2 separate regions of the Homo sapiens genome follow, and region 1 is linked to region 2. Evidence: fine-mapped expression QTL. A gene starts in region 2. The other region holds a variant in brackets. All regions are shown on one strand. Distances are from middle to middle. Region 1 overlaps ATG2B (autophagy related 2B). Region 2 holds the start of ATG2B (autophagy related 2B).

Region 1 (9,303 bases), 60 kb after region 2:
AAGGCATGCATGAGCCTCAGTTATTTAGCCATGACATTCGGGTTCTTACTGAAACAAAAGTTCTCTTATTGAAAAGAATTAGATAATAAAGTTGGGTAAGCAAAGAGGGACCCAGGTGATTCAAGATCCTTGAAAGCCAAAGGGAAGCAGGTAAACATTTTAAAGCCTCTATTTCAACAGTATTTTCTTCTAATTGAATGGTCATAGCTATATCTATATATTGGGAAATCTTAATTAAAAATTATTTCATGGAGTTGTAAAAGTCTAGTGTTAACTGTTGCTGTCTTGCTAATTTAGGATAAATTAGAACTAAGGAAGCAAACTGGGGCTTTTAGTGTTCTATGTACTACATTATTTGTAATAAATGTTAGCAGCTAGGCTGGGCACAGTGGCTCATGCCTGTAATCTAGCACTTTGGGAAGCTGAGGCAGGTGGATCACTTGAACTCAGGAGTTTGAGACCAGCCTCGGCAACATGGTGAAACCCCATCTCTCCAATTAAAAAAAAAAAAAAAAAAAGCTAGATGTGGGATGTGTTGGCAGGCGCCTATAGTCCCAGATACTTGGGAGGCTTAGGTGGGGTGGGAGGATCACCTGAGCCCAGGAGACGGAGGTTGCAGTGAGCCAAGATTGTGCCACTGCACTCCAGCCCGGGTAATAGAGCGAGATTCTGTCTCAAAAAAAAAAAAAAAAAAAATATATATATATATATATATATATATGTGTGTATATATATATATATATATATGTATATATATATTTATGTATTTATATATATATGTATATATATATTTATGTATTTATATATATTTATATATGTGTGTGTGTGTATATGTATATATGCAGCTACCTTAATTACATGGGAAAGAATATTTAGTGATTATTTACTGGGTGGCTTCAATATACAAGATTCTGTACTAGGCCCTGGGTACCTGTAAGGATGAGTAATTCTGAGGTACTGCTGTAGAAGAATCTAAAATCTAATCTGTGAGTCTCTTAAAGCCAGTATGTCTCTTGATTCAGCTTAGTGTTCTCAGCCTCATCACAGTGTTTGGTTTTAATGAATGAATGGGAAAAGAATGAGTGACTCTTAATATGTAATGTAAACATATTAAAATATATGTTGACATGCAGATTTTGGTGCACATGTAATCTTTTGCGATAGCTACCTAAGATTAGGTATCCAGTTTGGGTATCCCAGGCCCCAGGAAGAGGTCTTCTTTTCATACTTGAATCACTGCCTCCTCTGCCACCTAATGCTTGCTCAACAGCTATTCTTCCCTCCCCTTCCCCTTCCCTCCCCCTACATTTAGGCTCTGCTAAATGTAACCAGTTTCCCCTCACATTGTAATATTGTCCAAGAAGTTTCTTCCAGAGCTCCGCCTATAGGACAGAATTGTCAAAGGTGAAATTCTGGGTAAAGCAAAACTCCACTCAACACTAACCAGCAACTGCTGAGCTTCCCCAACGCCAACTAACTGGGAGGAAACTGTCTTTGTGACATTGCCATTTCGAATTTATCATTTGTCTTTTTATTAGTTGTTGTTTTTTGTTTGTTTGTTTGTTTTTTTGACAGGTTCTTGGTCTGTCACGCAGGCTGGAGTGCAGTGGTGTGATGTCAGCTCACTGCAACCTCCACCTCCCGGCTTCAAACAATTCTCCTACCTCGGCCTCCCAGGTAGCTGGGACTCAGGTGTGTGCCACCATGCCCAGCTGATTTTTGTATTTTTAGTAGAGACAGGGTTTCATCATGTTGGCCAGGCTGGTCTGTAACTCCTGACCTCAGGTGATCCACCCATCTCGGCCTTCTAAAGTGCTGGGATTACAGGCATGAGCCACCATGCCTGGCCTATTAGTGGTTTTTGATGTATTTCTGACTCTTGCTGAGGTGTTTTGGTGCATGTTACTTAGCTCTCTTTAAGCCTCAGATTCATAGACTTATTTTAGGAAATAAATGAGATATTGCAGGTAAAAGCACACAACATATATCTGACACATGGTTAAAATGCTTGTTGTTGTTGATATTTCAAAGTGTGCCAAAATGTTGTAATCTTTTTATCTAGGTGTTTTGGATGAAAAATCTCAAATTCAGGAGCCATGTTGTTCAGACCTCTTCCTGTTTCCTGACGAGAGTGGGAATGTATCCCAGGAGTCCGGCCCCACCTATGCCTCATTCTCTCACCATTTCATCAGTGATGCAATGACAGGTGTGCCCACTGAGAATGATGACTTTTGCATTCTTTTTGCACCAAAAGCAGCCATGCAGGTAATAAATTAATAACATTATTGAAGCCTTGAATGGTGTTACAAATGAATTGACCAAAGGGTACCTGGAGAAAATTCTGTTGATTTTGTAAATTCTTTATAGTTCAGAGTTACTTTTTTTTTTTTAATATACTATTGACAGTTGGTGAATGGTTACTGTACTATTTCTGTGACACATCTAAAGACTCAGAGAAGAATGCTATTTGCAAAATTTCCAACATAGATTATTGAACTCCAGATTTTTTATATAGTAAGATGACTATTCAAGGATCGTGAAATTAAATGGCAGAAGGATCTGCTGGACAGAATTGCTAGTCCAAGAATCGGGAAAGATAAGATGTGGTTTGTGTGAAGGCTGATGGTTGGGGTGTGTTTGTGTGTATGTATAGATATAAGTGTGTGTGTGTATGTGTATTTGGAAACTTTCCAGGAATTGTCCAGTAGGTGACCGTATTTGTTTACAAAGTTCTGAGAACCTTCTGGTTAAATTTTTAAAAATCCAAACAATCAAACTCAGGATAAACCTATTATTAAAAACATGGTAATATCATCCATATGTTGAAATTTGTTAACTTTTGGTTTGCAGTATTGACTTTAAACAAAAAAAAATACCCACACACTAAATTTGTGCTTTTTTATTATCAAACAAGTAGTGAAAGCCGAATTGTAAACCATAAAAAATCCTTATGGAGTGGTTTACGTAGAACAAAGAGAGTTTATTTTATGGTTAATAAAGCAGAATATCTTTGTGGTGACTAATGTCGGTAACCATCACCTTATTTTATATACTGGAATTATTAAAAAGAATGTAGAAGCAAGAATGCCCCTTGAGATGTGCAGCATAATCAGTTGTTTCTAATTAGAAAAGAGAGTATGTGTTACCTGTTTGTTTATTTTAGGAGAAGGAAGAAGAACCAGTTATAAAAATCATGGTTGATGATGCAATTGTGATAAGAGACAATTATTTCAGTCTGCCCGTTAATAAGACCGATACGAGCAAAGCCCCCTTACACTTTCCCATTCCTGTGATTCGCTATGTGGTGAAGGAGGTCTCTCTTGTCTGGCATCTTTATGGAGGAAAGGATTTTGGAATAGTCCCTCCCACTTCTCCGGCTAAAAGTTATATGTAAGTTAATTTCTATATAAGTTTATTTGGGAGGCCAATATATTCTTTTCTTAGAAAAATAGAATTTTCCATTTCCCCTTTAGAGAGAAAAAAGAAAAATAGGATTTATCATTTTAAGAATTATTAATAAAGTAGTATTAAAAACTGTAATTTAAATGTTACTCTCACAGTTTTCCAATTGTGAACTTATTTGTATTATTTGTATTTTTACTAAAATGTTGACTCTCATCATTTTCATTCAGCAGAAATTTTCAGGTATCTACCATGTACCTATTTCACAAAAATGAGTAGGTCCTGTGAGTCATGTGAGTGACAGAGGGCAGTGAAACGCAGGAAGTGTGTCAGGAGGTGGGGTCGGGCATGCCCTGTCCCCAGCATTCAGCAGGGCACTGAGCAGAGAGCCTGTGGTCATTGAGCGCCTGTGAGACGAGTGCAGTGTGCCGGTCGCTGGGAGAATCAGGTGGACAGAATCCCTGTAGGGGGCAGACTTCCTTATTGAGGTGGGGCATGGCATGGAGGCTGCGTGGAGCAGTAACATTTGACACTATAGTTCAGCAGCTTTTTCTACTTAAAAGCGACTTTAAAACACGTCCAACTTTACTATAATTATTTTGTGTATTAGTTGGGATTCCTAGGACTTGTGTTCTGACTATAAAGGGTTTCCAAAGTAACAAGAAGCTTATAAGGAGGTCTCATTTCTAAGTGTATCCTGTGATACGGATCCCAGCATCATAATTAGCTTTTCCTGTAGTTTTGAGTATTTAGCAAGCAGGTGATTACTCTAATGGCAATAATGAAACGCGTGTTTCAGTGTCTACAGAGTAAAGAAGATACGGTTTTGGTTTCTAGTAATTTGTGGCAGCGTTCTGATAGCTCTGTACTCTTACTTTGTCTTTCATCTTATCATTTTCCTTAATGTCATTCATTGACTTTCTTTGAATATTCCTTTAACAAAAGGGTTTTTTTTTTTTTTGCTCATTTTTAGTAGTCCCCACAGTTCGCCTTCTCACACACCCACGAGACATGGACGTAATACAGTATGTGGGGGAAAAGGAAGGAACCATGACTTTTTAATGGAAATACAGCTAAGCAAGGTAAGATGGCATTTGAAGGAAAAATCCACTTAAGTAGGATATTGGCGGGGGGTTCTTTTGTTATCCCCCACCACGTAGTCTTGAGCCTTAAGTCCCAACCCTTTGGATTGGAAAAGTGCAAGGATCTTGTATAAAACTCTTACCTCTTTTTCATTCTCAAATGTTCTAAGAAGACTGAGGTGTTTTTCTTTTATTTTTGTTTGTCTGGGCTACCGCTAGAGCGGTGGTTCTCACAGTTGAGCAAGCCCAGAATCCCCTGGAGGGCTTATTAAAACACAGGTTTCTGGGCTCCACCCCAGAGTTTCTGATTCAGGAAGTCTGAGGTAGGGTCAGACTGAGGAGATGCTGCCCTAGAGCATCTGTCTGGGAAAGCCTGTGTTTGGACAGTGCATCTGGCAGGTCCTTTGTGAGACTAGAGACCAGTAGGGCCAGACTACTGATGGCATCACACGCATTTAATTCTACCAGCTTGTCTGAGATTGTACCAAGTGTCATATTTTAGGATAGTTAGCATGGCAATATTGTAGTGATGACAATTCCCTGTATTTAATCATATCTGTGCCTCCTTTTGGAACTTGAACCCTGCCTCTGCTGATTCATTTTAAAGCAATTTCATAGGTATGCAAGATAATAATTTTATGTCTTATTCCTA[T/C]TGAGAATTTTCCTTGGAAATAAGGGATTTTACCAAGGTCAAATAGAAATATTAGTCAAGCTTCTCTGTGTATGGTAGGGTCCACATAGTCCCCCTTATCCACAGACATACATGGTAATAGCCTCAGTGGATGCCTGAAACTGCAAATAGTACTGAACTTTATGTATACTGTGTTTTTCCTATACATACATACCTATGATAAAGTTTAATTTCTAAGTTAGGCATAGTAAGAGATTAACAATAATGAATAATAAAATAGAATAATTATAACACTATACTAAAATAAAAGTTATATGGAAGGTATTTCTCTTGGTTTCAAAATACTGAAATATTTTTGGACCTCAGTTGACCATGGGTAACTGAAACTGTGGAAAGCAAAACCTTGGACAAGCAGGGAGCACTGTAGATTAATAAATGAGTGAACAAGTGAAGGAATGTCATGTTGTTGAGTTTTTTGAAGGTGGAATTGTAAGCTGAGGTAGAATTCAGAGGAAAAATGAGTGATATTTTGCATTTTAAAGAGAAAATACAATTTAATAAAAGGAATGTAAAGAACTGTTCCGCGTTCTTCCTCCTTACCCGTTAAGGTGAAGTTTCAGCATGAAGTCTACCCGCCATGCAAACCTGATTGTGATTCCAGCCTCTCAGAACACCCAGTCTCCCGGCAGGTGTTCATTGTTCAGGATCTTGAGATTCGAGATCGTTTGGCAACATCACAAATGAATAAATTTTTATACCTGTATTGCAGTAAAGAAATGCCTCGAAAAGCTCACTCCAACATGGTAAGAGTTAACCTCATCGTTGTGTTATGTTAGTTTTGGAAACGTGTTTTTATTATATCTAACTTCAGGAGAGTTAAAGTAGGGAAAATTACTAGATATCTTTTCTCATTTTAATGTGAAAAGTCCCTTTTGAATGTATTGCTTAAAGTTTTATGTTTAAAAAATTATTTTGCATGTCACTTCTAGGGTCCATTAACTCTAATTGCTAATAAATTGATATCTGAGGAAAAGTAGAAGTCCCTAGTGATCAGTACAAAATAGGTAGTATTGCTGAAGGTGTTCCAGATTTCTAACACTCTTTACATTTTAGTAAGGTAGAAATGATTCTTTCAGGACTTTGGAGGTCCCTCACAGAATTTGATTTTGGCATATGGACCTATGGTTAGCTTCAGGGTTTCAGTAAACTGTTACTAAGTACAACATTATCCATTTGCAATTTTTCCTCTAAAGAGAGTCTACATCTTTAAGCAGTTTTTTTTTTCCCCCCAACAGTGTCTCACTCTGTGACCCAGGCTGGAGTGCAGATTGTAGTTCACTGCAGCCGTGACCTCCTGCGCTCAAACTAGCCTCCCATTCAACCTCCTGAGTAGCTGGGACTACTGGCAGTGCACCACCGTGCCTGGCTAATTTTTTGTTTTTTGTGGAGTTGGGGTTTTCCTATATTGCACAGGCTGGTCTGGAACTCCTGAACTCAAGTAATCCTCCCACCTTAGCCTCCCAAAGTGTTGAGATTACTGGCATGAGCCACCGTGCCCAGCCTTTAATCAGATTATTGATGGGGGCATGTGACCCAAAAATGTTTGATTCAGACTTTTAAGGAAAGAGGGTAAACAATTCCTCTTTTTCTCATATGGTATAGGAATAGGAATTTTTCTTTTTTTTTCTTATTTTTAAAGAGAAGAAGGTCATCATATTATTGGGGAAAAATGTTATTCTCTTTCTTGCCTTGTAGTTGACAGTGAAAGCCTTACACGTGTGTCCAGAATCTGGCAGGTCCCCACAGGAGTGCTGCTTGAGAGTGTCGCTGATGCCGCTCCGCCTCAATATTGACCAGGTTTGTAGCATGAGCGTGATTCCTGCCGTTACAGTTAGATTAGACTGCATGTTCAGAATAAAGAAATTGTAATGTTTATCATTATTGAACTTTTATGGCGGTTACATATATAAAGCAAACTTCTGATAAAGAATAGGGCAAATTCATTAGATGTTTGGAATCTGAACTATGGCTGAGTCAACATCATTAGATGTTATTCCCCAGTCTCCTACTCATGGTGTGATGTAGACCTTAATACCTGCTTCTTGTTCTCTAATCCTCAAGTACTCTACTCCCAGTTCAGATATGCATACATTTTCAGAGAGTATTAGAGGATTCCCTGATGAATTGAATGCTGCTCTGTCTTCATTGCAGCATCTGGAAGAGAATTCTTTCTGTGCTGGGCAAAATGACAAATGAGTAAATTGGTATACATAAAGAGGTCAGAAACAACAGAGATTTAGACTTTCCCTAAAAAAAACTGGAGTTGGGCACAGTGAAATCCACTTTCCCGTATTCTAGCAGGCATCCCATCAAATTCTTCTGGGCTTTGCTTTGACCCAGCGATCTGTTTAAAACATAGCTGGTGCCTCTTCCAGAAACTTTTTACCAAGATGTATGAAAATAGGATGCGCAGCCAAGGTATAGTAATAGAATGGCGAGAAGCATGGGTTTGGAGTCAGACCTGGGTTCCAGTCTTAGTTCTGTAGCTTTTACTAGTTGTATGGCTTCGGGTAAGTTACTGAACATCTCCAAGCCTTAGTTCCTTCACTGATAAAATGGGAGAAATAGTAATATGTGTATCATAATGCTTTTTAAAATGAAGATTAAATAAATCAGTGTGTGAAAAACATTAACTGGGTGCCTGACACACTAGGTTAGGGATCAGTAATGTTAACTGTTGTTATTTAATAATAACATAACATATGATAATTGCAGAACATAAATGGAGTTTTTAACTAATCTGCTGTGAAATAACAAAACCTTCTTGACAGAAATTGTGTTGATATGAGCTCAGGTTTGGAAGTAGAGTATTTATTTGTGGGGTGGACGTTATTAATTTGCTTAAATAGTACTGGTTGAATAATGTTCATTAGTTGTTTAAATAAAACTTGAATAACTAAAAGCTGGTAACAAATATTTCAAGACTGAGCTTAAATAATATTTATAAACAAAAAATAGGCGCTGTCTTAGAGAAAATGTACTGTGAAGTACAGAAGCTTAGCATAGCTCTACATTAATGCTTATAGCCTCTGACCTAGGTTAGACTTGCCAATCAGTACTTTAAGTTTATGTTTTATCATTATGAAAAGAAGATATTTTGATATCCATACTTTAACTAAATTTATCCATATATTGATTGGCCTAGTGGAAATACAATGAAATATTTGTGGGAAAATTGATCTGTGGCGATCACCAGTGTGAACAAGACTTTGAGTAAGATACATCTTTCTGGCATGACTTTACGAAACTTAGCAAGCCCAATTTTCTTTCTTTTTTTCTTCCCCCGCCACAGTGTCTCACTCTGTCACCCAGGCTGGAGTGTAGATCATGGCTCACTGCAGCCTTGACCTCCTGGGCTCAAACTATCCTCCCGCCTCAGACTCCTGAACAGCTGGGATTATAGGCGCATACCACCATGTCCAGCTAATTTTCTATTTTTATTTTTTTGTAGAGACGTGGTCCCATTATGTTGCCCAGACTGGTCTTGAACTCCTGGGCTCAAGTAATCCTCCCACCTTGGCCTCCCAAAGTGCTGGGATGATAGGCATAAGCCACTGTGCCCACCCTAATTTTCTTTAATAGACTTTTAAATTTAATATTGAACACAATTTCTTATTTAGAACTATAAAGCATTATGATTTTAAAGTGGAGAGTTATTAATCTTAGAACCATCAGGGAAATAAATTTTATGACTACCTTGAGGAAGAATGAGAAATAATTCATTAAGACATAAAAGCTAGGAAAACAAAGCCACACCACAAATATGTAAGCGTTAATGAGGTATATCACCTGACACAAAAATTCTTTTCAGTTCGCCTCTTTTAAGATTGCTATACCATATTTTGGGATAGTAAATGGTCGTCTGAGTAGAAAATCAAATATTTTTGTTTATTTTTTCTTGTGAAAACAAATCAGTTGGTGAATGATAATGCTTTGAGTATTATTTTTCTAACCGAGCACATCCCCACTTATTCTTCTTAATTGAATCATGTTAAGTATGAAAGCAACACATTATTCTTTCATGTTTTTGAAAAAGCTGCATTGCCATTGAAGGTAAGTGCAACTGCTTCCAAAGCTCAGTGTTCCCTTAGGGCAGGCAGTAAGCATTGCAGATGGAATGAGTTCCAT
Region 2 (9,303 bases):
TGAGAGAGAAAGAGGGAGTAGGGGAGAGGGAGGGAGACAGATATACAGAGAGATACAGAGAGAAAGCCATTCATGAGGGATCCACCCCCATGATCCAAACACCTCCCACCAGGATTCACCTCTAACACCAGGGATCAAATTTCAACATGAGGCTTGGTGGGGCCAAACCATATCCAAACCACAGCAGTGCTTTTGTTGATTAAGGAGGGAACTCAGAAGAAAGAAATACACAGGGTTAATTTGAGTTTTTACAAACTGTAAATAAGCAGCAACACTGGCTGGGTGCTGTGGCTCATGCCTGTAATCCCAGCACTTTGGGAGGCCAAGGTGGGTGGATTGCTTGAGTCCAGGAGTTCGAGACCAGCATGGGCAACATGGTGAAACCCTGTCTCTACAAAAAAATACAAAAATTAGTGGCACAAGCCTGTAGTCCCAGCTACTTAGGGGCTGAGGTAGGAGGATCGGTTGAACCTGGGAGGTTGAGGCTACAATGAGCTATCGTGCCACTGCACTCCAGTCTGAGTGACAAAGTGAGACTCTGTCTCAAAAAAAAAAAAAAAAGAGTAGCAATACAACCTTGTAAACCTTTCCTTCGAAACCAGAAACTGTAAATGAGACTCTAGGAAAAGACACTCAAAAATGGAATGTAAAAAAAAAAAAAAATTCCAGTTATTACAGTTTCTTATTTCTATATAATCCTCTAGGAAATAAGTATTACTTGGCACTATATTTAAAGTACATTCTAACAAACATAAATCAATATCTACAGAGACATAAAATAGAAAACCTCACTGCTTTCCATTTAAACTCCAAATTGGTTCTCTACCAGATCCTGAGCAATATTCTGTTTCTAGCAAAGAGACAAAAATTGGAATACTTGACAATTGCTATTATTTATTCTGGTAGGTTGTATCACCTGATGTAAAGTTTCCATAAATGATTCCTTAAAACATCATACATAAATTATTTAGGAACCAGCTCTTTCTCCATAATTTTTGGGCGGTGTTCGGGTGTTTGTGTTTTTGGAGGATTCATCCAACTGGTTATTATGACATTGATTACTAAATCGTTTATTCTTTACTTCCTAATTTATTAGACTATTTTGTTTCATTACGAGTTCAGAGCATCAAAGAGCTTTATCCTTGATGACAAAAAAATGGGCAAAGACAGTCATATATACTTAGTCTGACAAAAGAACAGCCCCAGAAAGATTTCAAGAACATATGGAGTGCAAATTTTCACTTTGAAAGTCTGACCTTTCAGTTGACATTGTTAACAGTCAGCTGAGGGCAGGATACGATATCTTAATCATGATTACCTTTATTTGTATCACACACTACAACCTGGTAAATCCTCTCAATATGAACAAGGGGCCAGGAAGATGTGATGGTTAACAGGCTCTCAAGCAGACTGACTGGGGCTAGAATTTTAGCTTGGCCACTTAATTTACTCTGGGACTTGGAAAAAGATGTTTTAATCTTTCTCAGTCACACATTCCTCCTCTTTAAAATGATGTTAAAATAGCATCTACCTTTAAGTGATATTGAGAGAACTAAATGAATGAATACATGGAAAGTGCTTAGAACTGTGCTGGGCAAACAGCTGAAAAAATATAATCTATTATATTAAAAGTATTTAACACTATCTTTCAAGAAGAAAGCCTGACCCTGAAGCTCAAGCCATGTGGCTCCAAGTTAGGTGCTCTTTACATTATGTGGGGGATTGGCTGCTGCTGTGTTGTACAATTCCTCCAAGAGCCGTGAGGTGTGGAGCCCTGACAGCGTCGTCCTGTTACCTCAGGTGCAAGTCATTAAAAAAGGTCAAATACATCTCCTTGGCTTTTCTTTCATTTCCCATGTTAACAGATTTCTCTGAAGGAGGATTATTTTGACATGACCCATTTAGCCTCTGGCATACAGCCTCTCACCTGTCACTTCAAACTTTTACATAATTCTTAATAAGCTGACAATATTCGGTTGGGTAATTATTTTCTTTTTTAAAATTTATTATTATTTTTTGAAATAGGGTCTTGCTCTGGCACCAAGGCTGGTTTCAAACTCCTGGTCTCAGGTGATCCTTCCGGCCTTGGCCTTCCAAAGTGCTGGGATTACAGGGGCACGTCACCACACCTGGCCAGGGTAATTATTTTCATCTTCCTTAATTAATGCAAGGTGTTAACATTTTGTGACAGGTACTTTGTCTTTGACAAAACACAAAAATGGCACTGTGATTTGAGATGAGTTTGTACCCTACTGTAGCCAAAGATATCATAATGACAGGTCCTAAACCTTAACATTTATACTGAATTTCTCCTAGAAAGCATAAAGTTTACAAGGCAACACACAATACTCTGAATAGAGCATATTTGTTATTGCAAAACCGTCGTTTTAATTTTCCTTTCTGATATTTGAAATTGCAGGCACTCTATGGATAGCCCGAATGCAATTCTATATTGAAAAAGGAAACCACTTATTTAATAACTGCTGAAAGAAGTCCAAATTGTATCTATTTGTCAGAAGTCTATTTCAAACCTTCCAAAGCCTATTCTAATTTCTTGCAAGATCCCACCTTTGCCTTTTCATACCACCTTGTTTGTATTCCTTTTATGGCAAATATTAGAATTATTATTTACAAACATGTCTTATCTTCAAAATATATCCAGAATCCAACTGCTTCTAACTAATCATTTTCACCGCTACCGCTTTGGTCCAAACCACTGTCATCTTTTCCTTGCATTACGGTGATATCCTTCTAACTGGTTCTGCTGTTTTCACTCTGGCCCTCCCACTTCCACACCAGACTATTCTTAACAGCAGTTAGCATGATCCCATAGAAACTTAGGCCATACTGTGTCACTCCTCTCCTAAATCCACCTCACCCAGAGTAAAGGCCAAAGTTCTTTTTATTTTTTTAAGATAGAGTCTCACTCTGTTGCCCAGGCTGGAGTGCAGTGGCACAATCTCGGCTCACTGCAACCTCCGCCTCTCGGGTTCAAGCAATTCTCCTGCCTCAGCCTCCCAAGTAGCTGGGATTACAGGTGCACGCCATCACACCTGACTGATTTTTTATATATTTTTGGTAAAGACAGGGTTTCACCATGTTGGCCATGCTAGTCTTGAACTCCTGACCTCAAGTGATCCGCCCACCTCGGCCTCCCAAAAGTTCTGGGATTACAGGAGTGAGCCACTGTGCCCGGCTCCAAAGTTCTTATCAATGGCCTACGAGGCCCTACATGATGTGCTTCCTCTGCGCCCCGCCCGCCCCACCCCCCACCCCCAAACTGCCCAGCTTCTACTTTTTCCTTCACTCACTCTTGATGTTCCCTAAATTCATCAAGCATTCTCCCGTGACAGGGCGTTGCACTTGCTGTTCCCCTTGCATGGAAAACAACTCTTCCAGGTATACATGTGCCTCACTTCCCAGCTTTCTCCAAGTTTCTGCTAAAATGTAATCTTATTAAACAAGAGAATTTCTCTTACCATCTCATATAAAAATGGCAAGTCCCTTCTCTCTTCCCCATCTCCACTCCCTTTACATTGCTTTCGTTTTTCCAACAGCCCTTATCACCACAAAGCATATTATTCACTCATTTATTGTATGTCTCCTCCCTTCAATAAAATGTAAGTTCCAGGAAGGAAGAGATTTATCTGTTCACTGCTGTAATCCCAGTACCTAGAACAGTGCTTGGCACACAGAAGGCAATCAATAAATATTTACTGAATAAATGAACAAACTTCCACTTTATTGAGAGAAAGGGTCTTGCTCTGTGGTTCAGGCTGGAGTGCAGTGGCATGATCATAGCTCGTACGATCCTTTCTGATATTTGAAATTGCAGGCACTCTATGGATAGCGTCAATGCAATTATGCAGCCTCAAAGTCCTGGGCTCAAGCGATCCTTCCGCCTCAGCCTCCACAAGCAGGTACCACCATGCTTCCGTTTTAGAACATAAACTCCTTGAAGGTTCGGCCTGATTCTTGACACTGTTCACATGATCAACTGTGGTGACTTTCATTTAATGGACCTTAACAAATATTTCTGAATGAAGAGCAAGGGAATCTAAGTTACTGAGAATACTTGAGATGAGTCTACAAAGAATGAGGGAAATCAACAATCCAAGCAACTGCATACAAAGTACCCTGGTTCTAAAACGAAAAGGTGGTTGTGGAAAGGGGAACCAGATGTTTCTCCATCTACCAATATTTTGGGCTGTATTTCCAAGGCATTCATGAAAGTTGCCGAGACAGTAAACATTTCACTCCTTAAACTGGTCGTCTTAATTCACTGTGATTAAACAGCTGTATGTTTCAGGACTCTGTTCAGGTTCGTGCCCTACTCATATCATTTAATCTTCCCAACAAATCCATGCACATAAGATTTTAATCCGCTCACACTCGGCAAAGGAGGCAACGTGGGCTCGGGGAGGGCAGTGGCCGCTCAAAGTGGCTGGGCGGCTAATAGGTGTCAGTGCCGGGATTCTAACGAAGGACATCTGGCTTCTGGGCCATAGAACACCCGCACCCAGGCCTTTCGAGGTTGACTTAACTTAACAGCCGGCTCCGCCTCTGCAGGAGTTACCTCCCAAAAGGCAGAAATACGATTGCGCAGACTGCCAGAACAGCCCAAGTTCTTCACCCAGGTTCCGGCGGGGTCAGGAGCCTTTAGCATTTCTCAAGGAATGCAGTTTTGCCCACAGATGCTTCGAAAACCCAAGTTTCCTGATCGTTGCTATGACACACCCAGGATTAAGCGAGCGTATGCGAGAAGCGCTCTGCAAACCGCCAGGCAAACGGCAACGAAGAAGCTGCCTCAGAAACAATACCTGAATGAGGCGGGGGCCGAAGAACTTGCTGACAATGGGCACCGGTCAATGCTCGGGTGCGGGCGGGGATGCTCGAGAAGGGCTCCAGTCCTCCCAGCGGAGACGGCGGAGCCCCAAGTGTGCGTTTCCGGGGCGCCGAGGTCTGAGGGGAGCCGGGAGAGCCAGGCCGGCCAGACCGGCCCCCAGACCCCTCTTAACACGGGCGCGGGGCCCCTGCAGCCTGCCGCCCCTCTCGGCCCAGCCAGCTGCATGGCGTCGCGTCCCCATCCGGAAGGCCTGACGGCCCGCCGGCGCCCCGAGCCCCTAGCCCTTCTCGGGGGCCGCCCCTCGCCCGCAGCCACCCCGGCTGCCGCTCACCTGCGCGCCCGGCGTCCTCTTCTTCCTTCCTCCGGAGGCGACTGGAGCCGACCGGCGGTGCCGCCCCCTCCCTCCCCGCCTTCTTCCGCCCCGCCCCCTCGGAGCCGGAACTGCTCCAGCCCCCGCCCTTCTGCCCGCCTTCCGCGGCCCCAGTGTGGCGTCACTTCCGCCAGCGCCCGGCGGCGCGCCGGGAGTCTGGGTCTCGTGAACGCGCCAGGAGCGTCCCTACAGCCGGGAACGCGCCTCGCGGATGACAACAAATTCGTCGCGCGGCGGCAGTGGCGGTGGCTGCCTCAGCCCCTGCCGCCTCCTCTCGCGCTCTCTTGCACTCTCTCCGAGCCGGTTGGGACCCTCCTCGGAAGTCCCCTGGCCTGGGGCCAGGAGGACCCCTCTGCGTCTTGCCTCCGCCAGGCCCAGCGCGAGCGGTGCGGCGCCGGCGATGGGGTCTCCCTGAGGGACTCCCGGCACCAAATAGGGATGGAGGGGCCGCCCCAGGCTTAGGCCCCGCCGCGGCCTGGAGCCGGAGTCGCTACCCCGAGGCCGGAGCCGTCGCAACCCGCAGCCGCAGTCAGCCCAGCTGCCAGCAGTCACTATGCCTTGGCCGTTTTCGGAGTCCATCAAGAAGAGGGCCTGCCGGTACCTCCTGCAGAGGTACCTGGGCCACTTTCTGCAGGAGAAGCTGAGCCTGGAGCAGCTCAGCCTGGACCTGTACCAAGGCACCGGGTCCCTCGCCCAGGTCCCCTTGGACAAATGGGTAAGAGCTGCCGGCGGCGAGCCGGGCGGGGCTCGCTCCCCTCTTTAGGGCGCTTTGAACCAGTGCCATCCAAGATTGGTGACAGTCAGTCCCTCCTTGGGAATTGTTTGGACCCGAGTGTGACACGGCTCAGAGAAATGTGTTAGAGTGTTGTTTAATCTGTTTCTAACAAGTTTGCTCTCCTAAATCACGTGTTCCGGAAACTTTAACAGATGTAATGGAATCTACACTGTGGGAATAATTGAGTCAGTGCTTCGGGGGTCTGTGAAGCAGGCTCAATAGGTCCGTGGGAGGAGGTGACCAGAACTGTCCCTCGGGATGTGAGGGGCCGCAGGGTTTTGTGGCAAACAAACCCTGCCTTGTGGGATGACATTCTGGAAGGATTAAGGATGAAGAGGACCTTTGGATGTCAGAATCCCTAGTTATTTGTTTTGGGTTGGCTGCTTGCGCACCATGTTTGCCTTGTTTGTCATCGTGCAGCGTTTGCCATCTGGAAGAAAGTTAGGTGAAGGCCTCTTGTGCCGGTTTGCCTGCTTTTGCTTGATTATATGTTTACAAGATAGGTTTGTGTATCCAGCCTGTGAATGGTCGTCTGGCCCTAGTAGTGCTGTTGAGTTATGCCTCTTTGCTCCACGTGACAGATCGTAAAAGCAGGTGTTGCAAAAGCGCTGAAGTTGCAATTTTCAGACATTTTAAAACCTGCCTTCTACTTGTCATCTAGAGGCTGTGAATTCACTCATTGCTATACAGGTGCTTCATCTGAATTTCGACTCACCACATGCAGTCGTACCTGCATTTGTGTGTTCAATGCATAGCATTTTACTTAAAGTATATTCACTTTTGGGTTTGACAGGAATAGAGTGACTTCTACCCTTTGCCCAACCCTTACTTCCTTAGCCACAGAAAATCTTAAATTATGGAAATACCTTATTATGACCCTTAAGCGAATTTGTGCTAGAGACTATAAATCAGTATATAATTTTATCAGTATGTACCTGACATAAACTAGGGAGAGGACACAAGATAGTGGAAAGAGCCCTGGTTTGAGAGCAGTAAGACCCAGTCGCTCACCAGGAGGTGAGAGTCCTACCCCTGGAGAGACTCTCCAGACCGCCACAATTAGCCGAGTGATAATGGACTTAGCAATTCACCTGAGTTCAGTAAACACTAATGGAGCACACACTTCATCTCTGTGTCGTCCGTCTTATGGTATTGTATTCCTGTAATTCTTCCAAAAGATAGGGATTCTGAAGGATATTTTTGAATTCAACAACCCATGATTCTATACTTTTGATACAGTTATGAATAGGTTATCTTGAAAAAAGAGGGTTCAGGATTTATTAATGCCTTTTGTGGGTGGAAGGGCTTTGTATGCATTATCCTTTAATGACTTTAACCCTATAAGGTGGGCATTAATATTTCCATTTTACAGATGGAGTTAAGCAGTTTGCCCCATCACACATCTAGCAAGTATTACATCACATGGCCTAAGATCAAAAGAAAGGCAGTTAATGTTTATTGAGTATGTATTTATGTCAGGCATTGTACTAGGCACTTTCATTTGTGAGGTTTTATTTAGTCCTTATGGGAAATCAGAGGTAGTGATATTTGAATTTTATAGTTTGAGTTCAGAATCATTGGCAAAATGATTTATTACTAAACTTAATCTGAGGATGATGTTTTGTTCTTGATGGGCGGGTTTTGTAAACTAAAATGATAATGTCAAAGCATCCAGTAAACATTTGCTGTTGCTGATTTATTTTCATGTGCTGTGTTGATGGTTAGGATAAATCTTAGTGTGACCCTTAGATACAGCTGTTCAGAGTTCTGATTCCAAATTCAGTTTATTTTCACACTTGATTTTTTTTTTTTTTTTTTTTTGGTAGAGGATTCATTCTCTTGCTTTGTTGCCAAAGCTGGTCTTGAACTCCTGGTTTCAAGTGGTCCTCCCACTTCTGCCTCCCAAGTGCTCAGATTACAGGCATGAGCCATAGGACCCAGCCAGATACTTGATTTTAATGACTTACATGACTGAAAAAAAGGTACCTTCGGAGATTCACAGATCCTAATGGAAAAACTGATGCTAATTGAAGAATTGCTGTACTCCTACTGTTTCAATTCTAAATGATCAATTATGCAAAGAATTTTGTTGAACTCAGCAATGACATTCCTTTCATTCCTGATCTCAATTAGTTTTTCTATTATGGCTAATTGACATTGCATATATACACACAATTAGGTTTAAAATTCAGTTTTTCAAGCTCTTTGTTCAGAAGACTTAGATTGGTTGGAATAGTCTTTTCATGTTTTTAAACATTTTGTAAACTATATAGATAATGACTTAAAAAATAAGCAATGTTTTTAATAGACATTGTTTTCAGCAACAAAATCATGGAACAATGGAAACATTTCCAAATACAGTTTTTCAAATGTTCTCCTCATAGTACAAGTAGTCTTTGAAAAGTGGTTGCTTTCTTACTCATTATTAAAGTGCTATCTTTATTTTGAAAAGACAGATTAAGTATGTTTTGTTTTTTGGAAAATATCTGCTAGGTAGCATGTACTACTGATAGTCATTGTCATAAATACATAAATAGTCAGTGGAGAATTCTTCTCTGTGTAAAAGGAAAATGCTTATCTTTAAATCCAACCCTTAAACACTTGGCCATAGGAGAAACCAGGAAACCAGAAGGTAATTGCCATTCACTTTCTCTTTACAAAGATTCTACTGTTTAAAGGTCTGGTTTTATTCTATAGAATGTATGTGGAAATGTTTCAGTGTGCAGAAGTGGAAGGAACATCCAACTGAGGGCACCACTCTTAATCCTTCTCTGTTGTGGAACTACTAGTTTTCTCTTTGTACCAGTTTGATATGTGGCTTGAAGGAAGGTGCCAGTGCCCATTTGTATATTAAATATAAGTACAACTTTTCAATCTAAATTTGGAAAATTTAATATAGAATGTCTCATTTTCCTCTCACATCCTTATGAATCATCTGATAATACTTTAGGATATATGCATCCAGTTTTGGAGATTACTACCTTAAACGTGGCATGAAGTGGAGGGAGAAATAGAGGCAAGGGGTTTGGGATTGTTCCATCATTGGAATAGACTGTCTAAAAATTTCATAAACTCCTTGTCCCTAGAAGTGGTTGAAATGGCAAAATGTTGAAAGGAGGAAATTCTATTTGGGGTGGGAAGTTGGATTTAATGACTCATTCCTTTTTAACTCTATGACTGTGCCTTTATTTTTGATTTTTAAATGGAATTTCTTTCATTAATCGATTCAGTACATTTATTGAGCTCTTAGCATGTGCCACTGTGAGGGGCTGGGGGATATAGCAGTGAACTAAACAAAGACCCTTTTCTTAC

What was found. PIP is the estimated chance that this variant, and not a neighbour inherited with it, causes the effect. A credible set is the group of variants that fine-mapping cannot tell apart.
Region 1: its variant is the best candidate, but not a certain one, in a credible set for the expression of ATG2B in whole blood (INTERVAL, PIP 0.69).

Annotation. Positions count from the first base shown.
Region 1 is chr14:96,299,676-96,308,978 of GRCh38, reverse strand. It overlaps ATG2B (autophagy related 2B), which reads left to right. Exons shown (of 42, transcript NM_018036.7): 30 at 2,063-2,265; 31 at 3,164-3,390; 32 at 4,376-4,484; 33 at 5,724-5,918; 34 at 6,871-6,972. Among named protein-coding and RNA genes, the nearest start is that of BDKRB1-AS1, 36 kb to the right of the region's middle. The variant T/C (reference allele first, on the strand shown) is at 5,137.
Region 2 is chr14:96,359,443-96,368,745 of GRCh38, reverse strand. It overlaps ATG2B (autophagy related 2B), which reads left to right and starts at 5,405. Exons shown (of 42, transcript NM_018036.7): 1 at 5,405-5,931. The coding sequence starts at 5,770. It overlaps GSKIP (GSK3B interacting protein), which reads right to left and starts at 5,220. Exons shown (of 4, transcript NM_016472.5): 1 at 5,178-5,220. RefSeq lists a silencer at 4,948-5,297 and enhancers at 4,499-5,319, 5,240-5,534, 6,776-6,845.